Linked DNA regions of Homo sapiens: region 1 is linked to region 2. The links come from fine-mapping of genetic effects on gene expression. Tissue or cell type: putamen. Region 2 holds a variant in brackets; the other region holds the start of a gene. All regions are shown on one strand. Distances are between the middles of the regions.

Region 1 (8,104 bases), 130 kb before region 2:
TCTCAAAAAAAAAGAAAAAGAAAAAAAGAAAAGAAAAACAAAAGAAAGTAGTTCAACCCTGTAATTCCAACACTTTGGGAGGATGAGGTAGGATTGCTTGAGCCCAGGAGTTCAAGAACAGCCTCCACAACATAGTGAGATCCTGTCTCTACAAAAAAATACAAAAATTAGCTGGGCATAGTGGCTCACACCTATAGTCCTAGCTACTTGGGAGGCTGAGGTGGGAGAATCACTTGAGCCTGGGAGGTGGAGGTTGTAGTGAGCCGAGATCGGGCCACTGCATTCCAGACTGGGCAACAGAGCAAGACCCAAGACCCTATCAGAAAAGAAAAGAAAAAAGAAAAGAAACGAAAAGAAAAGAAAAGAAGGAAGGAGAGAGAGGAGGGAAGGAAGGAGGGAGGGAGGGAGGGAAGGAGGGAGTGAGGGAAGGAAGGAAGGAAGAAAGAAAGAAAGAAAGAAAGAGACAGAGAGAGAGGAAGGAAGGAAGGAAGGGGAAGAAAGAAAGAAGAAAAGAGAGGTTCAAGTTATTTCTGCCCCCTGGCAGAGTTATACCCAACCAAGTTGTATAAGATGTTGTCACAGATGTTTGTTTGTTTGAAATTTGTGTAAATACTAGGTCACTCAGTTAATGAGATTGAATCCCTGATTCCAAATCCCAAGCTCTTTACATCAAGTTTTCCAAGACCTGAGAAATGTATTATGTACATTTCCTTTCTCCACAAAACTCTAAGAATAGACACTCAATATCCCAAGGACCTTCTGCAACACGACCCCAGTTGCAGAAGCATTATCTCTACCTCAACACTTTCTGGGAGGCCTTGAAGGACCACTTGGCAAAGATTAAGCGGAAAGGCTAGAAGATGGTATTTCAGGAAGAGGAACTGGGAGAGAGGGCACTGATGGGAAAACGCAGATGATGGCTGGGGCAGGAGCTGGTGCAGGAGGAGTCTGACTTTGTGTGGAGGAATGGAAAGGGGAACACAGGCTTAGGTGGGGGGCTGGGGCCAGCTCATGGAGGCCTGAAGGCCAGTTCAGCTTATCCTCCAGGTTTTTGAGTAGGACAGTAATACTCCAAAAGAGGTGTCTGAGCCTTGGCCTGCAGAGAAAAAGATGGACAATAAAGAAGGCAGATGGGAGGCTAGAATAACCCTTCAGACAGTCTAGGATGATGTGACAGAAACATGCAGAAAGAAGGTATTTAAAAGACACCTTAAAGAAAATTTAGCATTTTGGAGTCTGGGCCATCTGCCCTCTTCCCAAGGATTAATATCCAAGTAAGTGTTTTGAGTGGGGTAGGAGCATGGCAGAAAGATAGAGGGAGCAAGAAAGCATAGAGCATTGGACGTACTGAGCCTTCCAGACCTTGCACAGACACTGTGGTCTGAGGGCTGCCAGAAGCCCTGGGGGAGACAGGGAGGACTGCCAGCTGATGGCTCCTGTATGAAGATGGCACTGAGGGCTCTGAGCTGGACACTGGCCTGCAGACTCTGGCCTGTGAGGCCCAGGCTATGGGCTCCACCTGGTCTTTGAGTGGGTGGGCAGACTGCAGATCAGGGGCCTGCAGCAGCATTTCATGTATTTCAATTCTTTGAAATGATTCCTCTCCCTGGGTGGCAGAAAGGAAAAAAAAAAAAAAAAGCAAACAAGCAAAATATAGTTAAGAACTCAAGAACTGCCAATTCAGAAACTCTAATCTGCTCAAAAAGTTCAATCCCTTTCTTTCAGAAGCCAAAAACCCATTTCCATCTCAGATTGTATATGTCTGTGTCTGAGAGCTGGTGAGGGAGACAGTGAGTATGCGAGGGAGGCCACTGAGATGCCTTTGTTCCTGTGTGTGAGCTACTGCTCTGAACTGCTCCGTGGACCTGTGTGTGTTGCACGCACATTTGTGCCTGTTTCTCAGGCCCCTGTGTGCCTTGAACTTTCAAACCATAACAGAAACACTGAAGCTTGGCAAAGATATCACAGGAATAATTATCTAATTTCAGAACATGTTATTATAATACCTACATGATGTGTAACAAACTTAACAATGTTCATGTTATATTCACCTACTCTGAGCTGTAGACTCACAACGCCAAGTTTTACCCTCAGAAGTTTCTCCAAAACACAAGGGCAGAGCAAGCCCCAAAGAAAGTTCTTCAGGGAATATTCCCCCACAACAGCTCCCTCACGGATTGAGACGTTTGGCTGGGTAGATGTCTATGGGGAAATTGCTGGAAGGAGGACAGAGCCTATCTTGGGATGGCAACTGTTCCTCCCAAAATCCTCATTCCTCCCCAGAAAAGAAGACATGGAACTGATAAGGAACTAGCAGCCATATTGGGGTGACACAGGCAGACAGGCTTTTCCTGATTCAGCTGTGGGCCGGGGGGGGCCTCCTAATCCACCCAGCTCCCCGTTTTCCCCAGGGGTCTGAATTGGACCAAGGCTGAGTGTGAGGGGAATGGTTTGCTGTTTGCTGCTGTTCCCTGTTGACTTTAGCCAGTAGCTCTGTTTACAAACCCAGGTTGGTTTTCCCAGCACAGTTAATTAGACCAAAGACATCTGGTGCAAGGCTGCGGAGAGGGCATCTGCTCAGAGCCTTCCCCCTACACCCTGCAGACTGCAGCCACGGCCCAGAGTGGGGCAGAACAGCTCTATCGGTACAGACCTGACTCCACCAGACCCAGTGTTCTCGGAGGAATCATGGCTTCCTTCACCCTGCCTTTCCATGCTTGCCAAGTCGGACTGGGCCCCAACTCCCCAAGCCATAGAGAACAAGGAGTCCGGGCTGGAAGGCCCACCTCAGTGGGATCATAGGCTGGAGATCAGGGACTCAGCTCTCTCCTCGGTCCTTCCATGTCCAAAGGAACAGGGCAGAAATTCCTGTCCCTTTCTCATCACAGACACTGCATTCTGTAGGAACGCCAGACCTCTTCAGGGAAAATCTCCCCTCCCTGGATACCCCCCCACCCACCCCCACCCCCAGAAAAAAGGCTGTGGACCCTTCTCCTCCCTGACCCCTCCCCAGCCAATCCCTGACACTGTGAGGAGGACAGAGATTAACCTGGCCCAGAGGGAGGCAGGAAGCTGCCCAGGAAGGTGAGAGGATCTAGGTGGGCAGTTTCAGAGTGGCGGGGAAGAGGAGAGCTGCGAGGGGGAGGGGCAGCGGCTTATCTCTCCCAGGAGGGGGGAGCTCACTCCAAACAGCTAGTGCACTGGCGTGTGAAAGCCCCTCAATTAGCACTAATGATGCAATCAGGGAGGGAGGAGGAGGGACCGAAGTTCTGGTGGCGTCAGCACCAACTTACACACAAGGTACACATTCCCTTCATCGGACACAATGGCCCCTTCAGACACGCCGAGGCACACACTCCACAGACAGCCGTCCGTGGGCACAAACGCACTCTTTGCCCAAGCTACTAGCATGCACATGGTTTCTTATACGCGGCTGACCCCGTCAGACCCCAGGCATCTTGAGGGGTAGGGAGCGACCCCCAGCTGCATTTGGGGCTTTAGAGGCAAGGAAAATCAGAAACACTTTGGTAAAAGGAGTTGAACAGGGCATCCTCGGCGAGCTCACGAGCATTCCTCTATGCCTAGAGCTCCTGTCCCACGCGCGCTCGCAGGTGCTGGCCCGGCTGTGCCCGCTTCCCCCTCACCATCGCCCCAATCCGGAATCCGGGGCTGAGCGAGGAGCCGCCACCCCCGGCCCCACCCGCGAGAGACGGGGTCCACGCGCCTTCCCTGCGCCCAAACCGCCCCGAGGCCCCCAGTCCCAGGAGGGAGCGCTGAGATCACTCGGATCTCCGCACCCCGGACTTAGCTGCTCGTCCCCTCCGGAGCCCGCTACCCGCCGGCCTCGCCCCTTTATCTTTCCCCCACTCCGCCCGGCCGGCTCCGTTATCCACCTCCCAATCCCGTTATCCGGCCGCCCCGGCCCCGTTATCCGCCCTCGCGTTGGGCGCGGAGCCCCCGCGCGCCTCCTGGCCGCCGCCGCCCCCTCCCCCGCTCCCAGACGGAGCTCGGGGGACCGCGGGCTGGGCGGGACCGCGGGCTGGGCAGGACCGGAGCCGCCTCCGCGCCGCTTCCCAGGCCCGGACGGCCGCGGGAGGAGGTCCCGCTGTCAGTCAGCGGGGAAGGCCGGGCCGGGCGGCCGGAGGGGGCGGCGCCGAGGACGGGCTCGGGCCGGGAGCTGGGAGGTGGAGGCGGAGGGGCGGGGGAGGGGGCGGGGGAGGGGGCGGGGGCGGGGGCGGGGGGCGGCTCTGGGCCTTATAAGCGGCGGGGGCAGGGCGGCAGGGAGGCAAGTGTCAGGCCGATGTGTCGCCCGCGAGGGGCCGGGGTCGGGGCCGCCGGGGCCATGCGCGCGGGCTGGGCAGGGGGCCGGCGGGGCGCAGAGCGGAGCCGCCTCGGAGCCTGAGCCGCCCGGGGCCGGGGCCGGGGAGCCGCGCGGGGCCGGCCGGCCGGGGGGAGGGGAGCGATGCGGCGCCGGCGGGCGGCAGTGGCCGCGGGTTTCTGCGCCTCCTTCCTGCTGGGCTCCGTCCTCAACGTGCTCTTCGCTCCGGGCTCGGAGCCTCCGAGGCCAGGCCAGTCCCCTGAGCCTTCGCCGGCCCCGGGTCCGGGCCGTCGCGGGGGCCGCGGGGAGCTGGCCCGGCAGATCCGGGCGCGCTACGAGGAGGTGCAGCGCTATTCCCGCGGGGGCCCCGGGCCCGGGGCGGGCCGGCCGGAGCGGCGGCGCCTGATGGACCTGGCTCCGGGCGGGCCCGGCCTGCCGCGCCCCCGGCCCCCTTGGGCCCGGCCCCTGTCCGACGGCGCCCCAGGCTGGCCCCCGGCTCCCGGCCCAGGCTCCCCCGGCCCGGGCCCGCGCCTGGGCTGCGCCGCGCTTCGCAACGTGTCCGGCGCGCAGTACATGGGCTCAGGCTACACCAAGGCCGTGTACCGGGTCCGCCTGCCCGGCGGTGCCGCGGTGGCGCTCAAGGCGGTGGACTTTAGCGGCCACGATCTGGGCAGCTGCGTGCGCGAGTTCGGGGTACGGAGGGGCTGCTATCGGCTGGCGGCCCACAAGCTGCTTAAGGAGATGGTGCTGCTGGAGCGGCTGCGGCACCCCAACGTGCTGCAGGTACGAGGGTGGGGACGCGGGGGTAACGGTGTTGGCTGGGAGTGCCCAAGACCTTGTCAACCTGGCTGGAAGAGAACCCCTTGATCTGGAGTGCCAGTGACTGCACCCAGGCTAAGCTAGACGCAGAAACCGGACCATGGCCCTTCCCACTGCACCACCCTGCTTCTCACTCCTGGGTGGGCGTCCCTTTACCGGAGAACTCCTGGGTTTCTCGGCTTCCACACATCTCTTAAAGACAGGCCAGGACAGAGGCTCCCAAAACTCAGGGGGTGGGGCAGTCCATTAGGATTTAGGACTCTACTCCGGGCTGGAGTTAGGAGGTTGAACACCAGGGATATTACCCCAAGCCAAAATGACCCTAAGCCAAGACACTTGAGTCAGAATTCCAACTGTGTGATAAAGTCCCCCTTCTTGATGGAACTTCTCCCAACTTCCAGTGATTTGTCTGGTTTTGAAAATGAGACGGGACAGCAGTGGGGCTGGGAAGAGCTGGAAAGAGACCATGTGTCAGGCTTGATTCCTATAGAGTCTCCCCACCCACCCACCTCCAGCGCCACCCAGAAGACACTGGAAGGGGGCTGGGGAGCAGGCTAGAAAAAGGGAACACAGTCCTTCCCAGAAGTGAACTAAGGGTTCCCCAGGCCTTAAAGTGGGTCCTTGAGCCCCTGGAGAAGCCTGAAGGTCTCAGCTCAGTGGACAGACTGGCGGCCTGAGGATCTAAATGTCACACTGTCTGAGTGTATATAGATAGCCAAGAGGCTGGAAGGTTGAGAAGGCCAAATGCTCAGGTTCCTACTCAACGGGACTCTGCCTCGCCTGTTCACTGGAGACACAGGCGAGAGCTGAAACCCCCACCTTGTCCCCTCCAAGCTAGACTTTGAGTGGGCCTCTCACAGTCCCAGCACCGCCCTAACACTCCACGTCCTCTCTCTCAGGTCTCCCCCCATCCTAAGATTAGACAGACTATTCCCTTTGCACATGTCTGAGCAAACAGAGGGGAATCCCTGACCGCTGTTGGCCCGGTGAACATGGGTGTGTGCAGCCTCCCCAACGGATGAAATCTTGCACACACCTTCCACCTACCAGCCCACTCAAACTAACCTTTCTGCACCCAGCAGAAATGACTGGAAACCCAGGAGTCCCTCTCTCCTTTCCTTAGGAGTGAGATGGCACCCCAGCCCTGGAGGGAGATGGGTGGGCGTCGTAGAGCAGGAGAGACTGGCCCAAAAGTTGTTTATACTCCTGTTGGCTCCCAGTCTCCCCCTCCCCCATCGTATTCCCCAACCCTGGTCAGACACTTGTGACCGGGCCCTGGGCCCCAAACTGGTCTCAGGAGCTCGGGCAGAACCAACACTTGCGTGTAGTGAAGCCTGGCTGCACAGCTCACACCGTGTCTGCAGCTTCAGGGAGTGAGCCCCTGGTTACGTGGCCATTCTAACTGGGAGGATCTTGTACTCTTTCCTTCCCAGGGACTTTTGGGAACTTTTTGGAAACTCTAGGGTGTCAGCCAGATCCTGAGGGAGTGGAGAGGTCTTGAGTGACTTAGCAGGACATAAAGTCTTAGTTACTTGACTCAAGACCCCTCTCCCTTCAGACGGGTTTGATGTTTGATGTGCTTTCCTATCTTTTAAGAAACTTGTCCCTCACTCTTCCCGCCAGCTCAAACTTCCTGACAAGCATTCAGCTAACGCCCCACATATATATCACGTGACGGTCCTCCTCTGAAATGTCAGGCCCCCAGCCCAATTCTGAAGGCACCAAAGAAAAAATTACAACAGAATAGTTTTCACCCTTCCCTCACCAAACCAAGACCAGGGTTGTCTGGGGTTAGCTGTGTGACTCTTTATTGTAGAGTCCCAGACGAGAGTTAGTGGCCCCAGGGCACAAGGGTTGCTAAGGGAGAGAGGGTCACAGGTCCTTTCTACCCAGGAAAAGTGAAAAGTGGGGGGCCCTTTAGTGTGAGTTTAGGGACTGCTTTGATGGTGGCTCTCCCCCATTCATCTTCTGACCATCAGGCCAGTGTCGCTCTGGCCTCCTAAACACGGCCATCTTTGCTGGCAGGGAAGCCTACAGTGGGGTCTTCCTGCCCAGGAGGCTTCAGGGCAGGTGTACAGGGAACTAGAAATAATGCTGCTTTAATACCTCTGAGTTATTTAAAATTTCAAAACCATTTGACTGTTTGCTGAACTGGGGAGGAGTTAGAGAACATTTCTAGAGTTCCTAGTGGTGCAGGCTCACCACCCTCCCTCTCTGAGCAGCCCAGAATTGGTGCTGTGGATTCTAATAGAAAATGCCCAGGCTAGCAGGCCCCATTCTGCACCTCCCAGGGCTTTCTCTGGTCATGGGGATTGCCTGGGCGAGATCTTTCTATCCATTTTCTTTGACCCCTCCCCATCCCGCCCCTGACACACGCATACACACTCCCTCACGTGACTTGACTCCTCTATAGCCCAGGGCCAAAGGGCACAAGGGTCTCCCCTCCCCTCAACCTCTCCCCACCTCCCCCTCCCCCAGTCATCCTGGGGCCCCCAGGCCTTGGATGGGCCCCCAGGCCTGCCTGGGCCCAGATTCTGGCCCTGCTAGAGTATATTTCTTCTCCCAACCAAACAAAAGATGTGACTGAAATGCTCAGCCTCACGCTTCCTGGGGGGGGTTAATGGTGTCTTTTTATTTTTTCCTGAGGGGTGTTGATTAATACCTCGTTAACAGCGCATTTAACGACCTCCGGGTGTTTAATAACCTTCAGAAGTTTCCCACAAAGGCTCAGACTCTGGGCAAGAAAATGAGAACCAGGCCCCAGGGCTGTTCCCCTTACCTTCCCCCCACCCCACCAGGGTCTGGGGCTTCCCTGGACTGATGGGGAGGGGGTGGAGAGAGAAGAGGGTGCCTGGAGCTGCCCTGGCCCCCCAAGTCACAGCCCAAGAGTGAGGCCTTCCCCCATGCCAGCAGGATGACGGGGAGCTGAGGGGGCACTCCTAGGGCGGGAAGAGGACATGTGAGGAC
Region 2 (8,104 bases):
TCGATTGAGCCCAGTAGTTTGAGACCAGCCTGGGCAACATAGCAAGACCCTGTCTCTGCAAAAAAAACAAAAATAGGCATAGTGGCATGTGCCTGTAACCCCAGCTACTTGGGAGGCTGAGGCAGGAGGATCACTTGAGCACAGGAGTTGAAGGTTGCAGTGAGCTATGATTGTACCACTGCACTCCACTGGGCCACAGAGCAAACCTCTGCCTCTAAAAAATAAATAAATAAATAAAGTATGTACTGTATGTAGAGATGTTTATTATTAAGCCTAAGTACCAGAAATGGGGATGAAGGGAGGAAGCACCATTTAGAATGCTGTGCTATGTTTCAAGCAAGTAACTTCTGAGAGAACATTTGTTGATTGCTAGATTTATCTCTGCAGAGCTTGGCTTTTTAAAACAATGAAATAATTTAGCAGTTTAAATTCTAGGGAGTCTTTTTCTGTCTTATGTGTAAGTTGGAATAACATGTAGCAAAATACTGTATTTTGTATGTGGGAGTCCATTTCTGTAACATGTAAAACTTCAATATTCATAAGAAATTTTAGAAAAATATTTTGATTTTTAAAATAGATTCTAATACTTGTAAAAAGTTTAGGGAAAGAATCTACTTCATCTAGTATTACCTCAGTGTGGAAGATTCCCAAATCTATAGTATATTTCTTTGTGTGTGTGTGTCTGACGGAGTCTTGCTCTGTCTCCCAGGCTGGAGTACAATGGCACGATCTCAGCTCACTGCAACCTCTGCCTCCTGGGTTCAAGCGATTCTCCTGCCTCAGCCTCCTGAGTAGCTGGGATTACAGTTGTGTACCACCACACCTGGCTAATTTTTGTATTTTTAGTAGAGACAGGTTTTCACTATGTTGGCCAGGCTGGTCTCAAACCCCTGACCTCGGGTGATGGCCACGCACCTTGGCCTCCCAAAGTTCTGGGATTACAGGTGTGAGCCACTGTGCCTGACCCTGTAGTATATTTGTATGTCGGTATATGATCTCTTGTCCTTTAGCTGTCTTAGGCTTTTATAATACCTTAATTTTGCATGCTGTATATGATTTTTAAATATTATTTTAAAGCATTCCTTATTTACAGTTTACAAAGAGCTTTTATCTCATTTAATTTGCATACTAACCTTGGGAGATAAATTATTATACTTTTATAGGTGAAAAAGGTCTAGAAAGTGGTTTTTTTTTGTTTGTTTGTTTTTTGAGACAGAGTCTTGCTCTGTTGCCCAGGCTGGAGTGCAATGGCGCGATCTCGGCTCACTGCAGCCTCCGCCTCCCGGGTTTAGGCAGTTATCTGCCTCAGCCTCCCTAGTAGCTGGGATTACAGGTGCCCGCCAGCATGTCTGGCTAATTTTTGTATTTTTAGTAGAGACGGGGTTTCACCATCTTGGCCAGGCTGGTCTTGAACTCCTGACCTTGTGTGATCCACCCACCTTGGCCTCCCTTACAGGTGTGAGCCACCGTGCCTGGCCGTGTTTTTGTTTGTTTGTTTGTTTTTGAGACGGAGTCTTGCTCTATTGCCCAGGCTGGAGTGCAGTGGCACCATGTTGGCTCACTGCAGCCTCTGCCTCCCGTGTTCAAGCTATTCTCCTGCCTCAAGCCTCCCGAGTAGCTGGGACTACAGGCACTCACCACCACACCTGGCTAATTTTTTGTATTTTTAGTAGAGATGGGGTTTCACTGTGTTAGCCAGGATGGTTGTGATCGCCTGACCTTGTTATTCGCCTGCCTCGGCCTTCCAAAGTGCTGGCATTACAGACGTGAGCCACCGCACCTGGCCAAGAGTGTGTTATTTTTTTAAAAGGTTAAGTCCAGGTTTTTTCTTTTTTTGTATGGTTGGGAGTGTTTGTATCTATATTATTTTTATTTTATTTTATTTTGTTTTTTTGAGACAGAGTTTCTGTCGCCCAGGCTGGAGTACAGTGGCACAGTCTTGGCTCACTGCAACTTCTGCCTCCTGGATTCAAGCGATTCTTGTGCCTCAGCCTCCCGAGTAGCTGAGATGACAGGTGTGCACCACCGCACCCAGCTAATTTTTGTATTTTTAATAGAGAAGAGGTTTTGCCATATTGGCCAAGCTGGTCTTGAACTGCTGTCCTCAAGTGATCCATCCACCTCAGCCTCCCAAAGTGCTGGGATTAGAGGTGTGAGTCACCATGCCCAGCATCATATTATTTTTAAATAAAACACCATAGAAAGGAAAGAAGAATAGAAAAATAAATTATCTTTAGCCCATTTGTATGCAGCTGATGTTAACATGTTAATGTACTTGTTCTTAGTCTTTTCCTATGCTTAGTTTTTTAATAGTTAAAATCATACTGCAGACATAATTTTGCATTCTGTTTTTTTCGTTGGATCCTAACCTTTTTTTTTTTTTCCCACTTGAACTCAGATTTTTCTGATGGAGTCCAGTGGTCTTTTCTCTACTCCAATACTGACTCTTTATAACCCTCAGGTACATACCTGAATCTGAACTTCTCTCCTGAATCAGCTTCTTTTCCTTATTTCCCACTGACTGTATCACCCAGTTTGAAATTTCAGAATCATGTTTTGATTCTTTGCCATTTTTGCCTAGGGCATTAGAATCTCTTCTAAGACTTGTCAATTCTTGTCACCTTTTCTCATCCCTTTTCTTTTCCACCGCTATAGTTCAGGTACTTATTATTCGATGCGTGGATTATTGCATGGCGTCGAGAATCTCCACCTGTCCAGTTTATTTTGTACAGGGCCCTCAGATTTATCTTCCTAAAGCCATGCTTTGATTGTGCTATTCACCCTCTCAGATTGCTTCATTGCTTTAATGACTACATTCAAACATCTTAGCCTCTTAACATCTTCTCAAGTCCTCTGTCATCTCTTTCTACTGTCTTACCATGTTCTGACCAAAATGACCTATTTCTTATTCCTCACATTTTCATCTTTTCATCCTGATGACTATTCTCAGTACCCTTCAAGGCTCAACTCAAATATTATTTCCTTTCTAAAAATGTTTACTTCTTTTCATTCCCAGCCCAAAGTATTCTTCCGTGAACACTTGATAGGACCACTCTTGGGGTACTTATTGCAGAATGTTTATTCCAATAGTTATAAGGTGAAAGTAATTATTACAGATCTTACAATTGTTATGTCTTATTTCCCTGAGCCAAATTGGTTTTATTTTTATTTATTTATTTTTTTATGAGACAGAGTTTTGCTTTGTCGCCCAGGCTGGAGTGCAGTGGTATGATCTCAGCTCACTGCAACCTCTGCCTCCTGGGTTCAAGGAATTCTCCTGCCTCAGCCTTCCGACTAGGTGGTGTTACAGGTGTATGCCACCACACCCAGCTAATTTTTGTATTTTTAGTAGAGACGGGTTTCACCATGTTGGCCAGGCCTGTCTCAAACTCCTGACCTCAAGTGATCTGCCCGCTGAGGCCTCCCAGAGTGCTGGGGGATTGCAGGTACCATGCCTAAGCCAAATTATAAACCTCTTGAAGGCTGTATTGAAGGTTTTATTGAAGGCTGAAACTCTCATGTGTCTTTGAAGTCTTGCAGTGGAGATTTCATGATCCAGTAAAATGTGGAGGAAATAAATTAGGGACTAGTATATAGTTGACAACTTAACAACCTTCACTTTCATACCTCTTTTTTTTTTTAAAGAAATGACATTTGAAGACCAAAAGATTGTAATACACAATCTCAGAATAAAAAATTGTAAAATTACTTTGAAAATTAAATATGGCTCACGCCTGTAATCCCAACAGTTTGGGAGGCTGAGGCGGGCGGCTCACTTGAGCTCAGGAGTTTGAGACCAGCCTGGGCAACATGGTGAGAACCCGTCTCTACCAAAAGTACAAAAAAATTAGCCAGGCATGGTGGTGCACGCCTGTGGTCCCAGATACTCGAGAGGCTGAGGTGGGAGGATTGCTGGAGCCTGGGAGGTGGAGG[T/C]TGCAGTGAGCGCAGATCACACTACTGGGCTCCAACCTGGGTGACACAGCGAGACCCCGTCTCAAACAAGCAAACAGACAAACAAAAACTCATTATGTTCTTATTTCTCATTTCACCTGAAATAAGTGAAATGTTCTAGACTTTATTGGGAATCTGATAAAGAATTCTGTGCCAGATTCTAGGGTATTTTCAAGTACAAGTCATGTGCATGACCTGTTAATGGTTTTTGAAATCAGTTTAGTCGTGGTCAGGACCAACATTAGAAAAATGAGGAGAAGAGGAAGAGATAATGTAAAATATCAGTACTTCGTGTGATATTGCTTCATGGAACATTTAATTTCAGTTACATATATTTGTCTTAGATTTCAGTGTAAAATTTCTGTTGGTCACAATCAGATGAAAGATACATTTTTAGTGGCTAATCCCTATCTTTGAGAGAATAGGTGGAAAGGTTGACATACATGAAAAGGTGGATGAACAATCAGAAGTAATCATTGCGGGCTATGTCTTTGACAAGTTTTTAGAATCTGAATATAATTAGAATATGTTTAACAGCAGCAGCAGCAGAAAGATATTTATTAGTTGTAGAATCAGTGTAATTCAGGCAAACTCAGTATGTAAAGAAGTGATTTTATAAAATTGGTAGGGCTAGGGTATGTTTACCTTGCAAATCAATTCTTTACTTTGAAAGAGAATTTTCAGGCCAGGTGGTATAGCTCACACCTATAATCCTAGCACTTTGGGAGGCCAGGGTAGGAATATCACTTGAGGCCTGGAGTTCAAGACCAGTCTGGGCAACATAGTGAGACCCTGTCTCTACCAAAAAAAAAAAACAAACAAAAATTAGCTGAACGTGGTGGTGCATGCCCAGCTCCTTGAGAGGCTGAGGTGAGAGGATCGCTTGAGCCCAGGAGGTGGAGGCTGCAGTGAGCTATGATATGCCACTGCACTCCAGCCTGGGCAGCAGAGCGAGCAGCGAGACCCTGTCTCAAATAAGAAAGAGGATTTTCCTTGTTTGTAGTGTGGTGAGTATCCCCCGTGTGGTGCCTGTCACGTGAGAGATCCCTGGGAGCCAAAAACAACAACTGCAAAAAAGAGGATTTACCATATTGCTGTATTTTATTTTTAAGCTGATCTGATGGAGTTGTCTGTGTCTTGACTGGTTCCCCACTTATTTGCTGAAATACATTTTTTCCCCAGGAAGCTGTCCCTGATTGGTACACTCAAACCATTGCACTATAGCGCTTCTAAAGTGGAGGGGGCTGAGCACTTACACCTAAGGGATCTGGGAGTGTAGGCAAAAGTTGAAATCTATTTAACTTTAAAATTTATATGATTGTTTTGCATCCATTATAATAAAGATTTGTTTAGACAGGAATCATCAATAGGTGCTAAATCTAGGGGGATATTTTGGTGAGAAGCAGGTTGTCTGCATGGTCTTAAATTTCCCCCCATATAATGCTTATTACTTGTAAGGGGGGGAAACAGTAACTCAATATGGTGGTGAAATCAGACAACACCTTGTGTGCATGATCAAAATAAATATCACCAATGGATTTGTGTGTCTCTGCATGTGATACCCAGAAAAGAGCACATCAGTTACAGTGTTTTTCAGCCATGAATTCATAGCCTGAATCTAATCATGAGGAAATTTTAAACTCCAGATGGGGAACATCCTATTTTTTAAAACGTCGGGGAGCTGGGTTTTTTTTTTTTTTTTAATATTATAAAGACAAAGTCTGTGGAAACATTCCAGACTAAAGAAGACTTAAGAGATGTGGTAACTAAATGAACTACCTGATTTTAGACTGGATCTTGTATAGAGGGGAAAATACAATAAAGGATATTATTGGATCACTTGGCAAAATTGGCATGTGGATGGTGGTAAGTATTGCATTAATGTTTATTGAACTTGGTAACTGTCTTCAGGTTATGTAAGAGAATATTTTTATTCTTAGGAAATACATACCCAAGTTTTTATGGAGAATGGTCCATGATGTTTATAGCTTATGGTTTAGGAAACAAAGGTAATACATATATGGGGGTTTTTTGTTTTGTTTTGAGATGGGGTCTCGCTCTGTCGCCCAGGCTGGGGTGCGGTGGCATGATCTTGGCTCACTGCACCCTCTGCCTCCCGGGTTCAAGCGATTATCCTGCCTCAGCCTCCCGAGTAACTGGGATTACAGGCACATGCCACCATGCCCGGCTAGTTTTGTATTTTTAGTAGAGATGGAGTTTCACTATGTTGGTCAGGCTGATCTGGAACTCTTGACCCCAAGTGATCCACCCACCTAGCCTCCCAAAGTGCTGGGATTACAGGCATGAGCCACCACACCCGGCCATATGTGTTTTATATATACACACAGATACGTGTACATATAGAGGGAGGGAGGGACAGAGCATGCATATGTGCATGTGTGTAAATAAAGCCAACGGGTAAGATGTTAATAATAGGTTAATTTGGTGAAAGCTATGTGGATATTCTTGGTACTGTTTTTGTTCTTACAGCTTTTCTGTGAGTTTGGAATCATTTTCAAATGAAAAGTTTAAAAAAATTGTATGAACTTTGCATTATACTTCATAGTATGGCATTAAAAAAAATTGGAACTATCCTGTCTTCCAGAAAATTCCAGGCAAACCCTTGAGATAAAACTGCGGCTCCAAGAATATGTTCCGTGTATGTATCATGTGGCTTCCTTTTATCCCTAAGCCTCAGTTTGAGAAACATGTCTCTGGACCAGAGGTAGCTGTGGTTCAGATTTAGCCAACAGACATATTTTGTTTGGCCCTTTTGAGTGTTTTAAAAATAGGGAGATTTCACATAACAATGTGGATGTTTGGTTTCTATTGAAAAATAGGGTGATCTTGCCACTCTGGACTTGCATTCCATTCCAGATGGTCTGTATATGTGCTAAGTGGTGTGCCAGGTGCCCTCAGTCCCTACCTTACATGCAGCTTGTTTTAGTCATTTCTTTCCTGGCCTCTATAGACCTGTCTTTGCAACCTTTACCTAGCCCAAGAGGTGATGAAAGTGCCTGTCTTCTTTACACTATAACAATTTGAGAATTAAATTGCTAAATGGATGCCCTATCACCCTCTAACATTTTAGTGTTTATTTCCTGTAAGTAAGGCTTTCTCCTACACAACCATATTACAACCAACAGAATCAGGAAATGTTGATACATTACTAATTCTCAGACCCATTCTAGTTTCACTAATTGTCTCAATAATGTCTTTTATAGCAAAAAGATCTAGTTCACAATTACATGTTGAATTTAGTTTTCATGTCTCTTTAGTCTCTTTGATATGGAACAGTTCCTTAGTCTTCCTTGGGTTTTGTCACCTTGACACTTTGGAAAGTTGCCCTCCAGTTGTTTTGTAGACTGTCCCTAAATTTGATGTTTCATCCTGATTAGATTCAAATTATGCAATTTTGGGAGAAATGCCACAGAAGTGAAGCTGTGTTTGTCTCATTGCATCCTATTAGGTGGCACACAATTTTTATTTATCCCATTACTGATGATGTCCATTCTGATCACTTGGTGTCTGCTAGACTTGCCCACAATTTTACAATTTTAGTAATTGCAAAATTATTTTTCTTGTTTTACTTGTTTTAGCTGGTAGTTGATAGCTATTTTGTAAAATGTGCTTTGAAACTATGTAAATATTCAGTTCTTCATCAGACCTTCAGTTTATTGGTTTATATCTGTATGGACTCAGGTTTCTTATTTTTTTATTTTTATTTTATTTTGTATTTGAGACAGGGTCTCACTCTATTGCCCAGACTGGAGTGCAGTGGTGCGATCACGGCTCACCGCATCCTCCACCTCCCGGACTCAAGCGATTCTCCTGCCTCAGCCTCCTGAGTAGCTGGGTTTACAGGCACACGCCACTAACACTTGGCTAATTTTTGTATTTTTCGTAGGGATGGGGTTTCACCATGTTGGCCTGGCTGGTCTCAAACTCCTGACCTCAAATGACCTACCTCAGCCTCCCAAAGTGCTGGGATTACAGGTGTGAGCCACCGCGCCTGGCCAGGTTTCATATTTTTTTGATGGGTTATAGTCCATTACTATTTATTTTGATGCTTAAATTGACCCTGTTTTGGCAAGTAGATACCCCTCTAAACTGTCTTCTTTGTTCTTTTGCCACGTTCTCATCATTCTTTGAA

The links. PIP is the estimated chance that this variant, and not a neighbour inherited with it, causes the effect.
Region 1: it holds the start of PKDCC, and the variant in region 2 is fine-mapped to the expression of PKDCC in putamen (GTEx, PIP 0.95).

The regions. Positions count from the first base shown.
Region 1 is chr2:42,043,738-42,051,841 of GRCh38, forward strand. PKDCC (protein kinase domain containing, cytoplasmic) reads left to right here and starts at 4,284. Exons shown (of 7, transcript NM_138370.3): 1 at 4,284-5,101. The coding sequence starts at 4,463. RefSeq lists enhancers at 2,661-3,164, 3,165-3,669, 3,293-3,412, 4,913-5,172, 5,886-6,387 and silencers at 3,583-3,872, 3,983-4,232, 4,383-4,562, 4,573-4,672, 4,803-4,872.
Region 2 is chr2:42,173,627-42,181,730 of GRCh38, forward strand. All of the region lies in intron 1 of EML4 (EMAP like 4), which reads left to right. Among named protein-coding and RNA genes, the nearest start is that of EML4-AS1, 7.4 kb to the left of the region's middle. The variant T/C (reference allele first, on the strand shown) is at 3,934.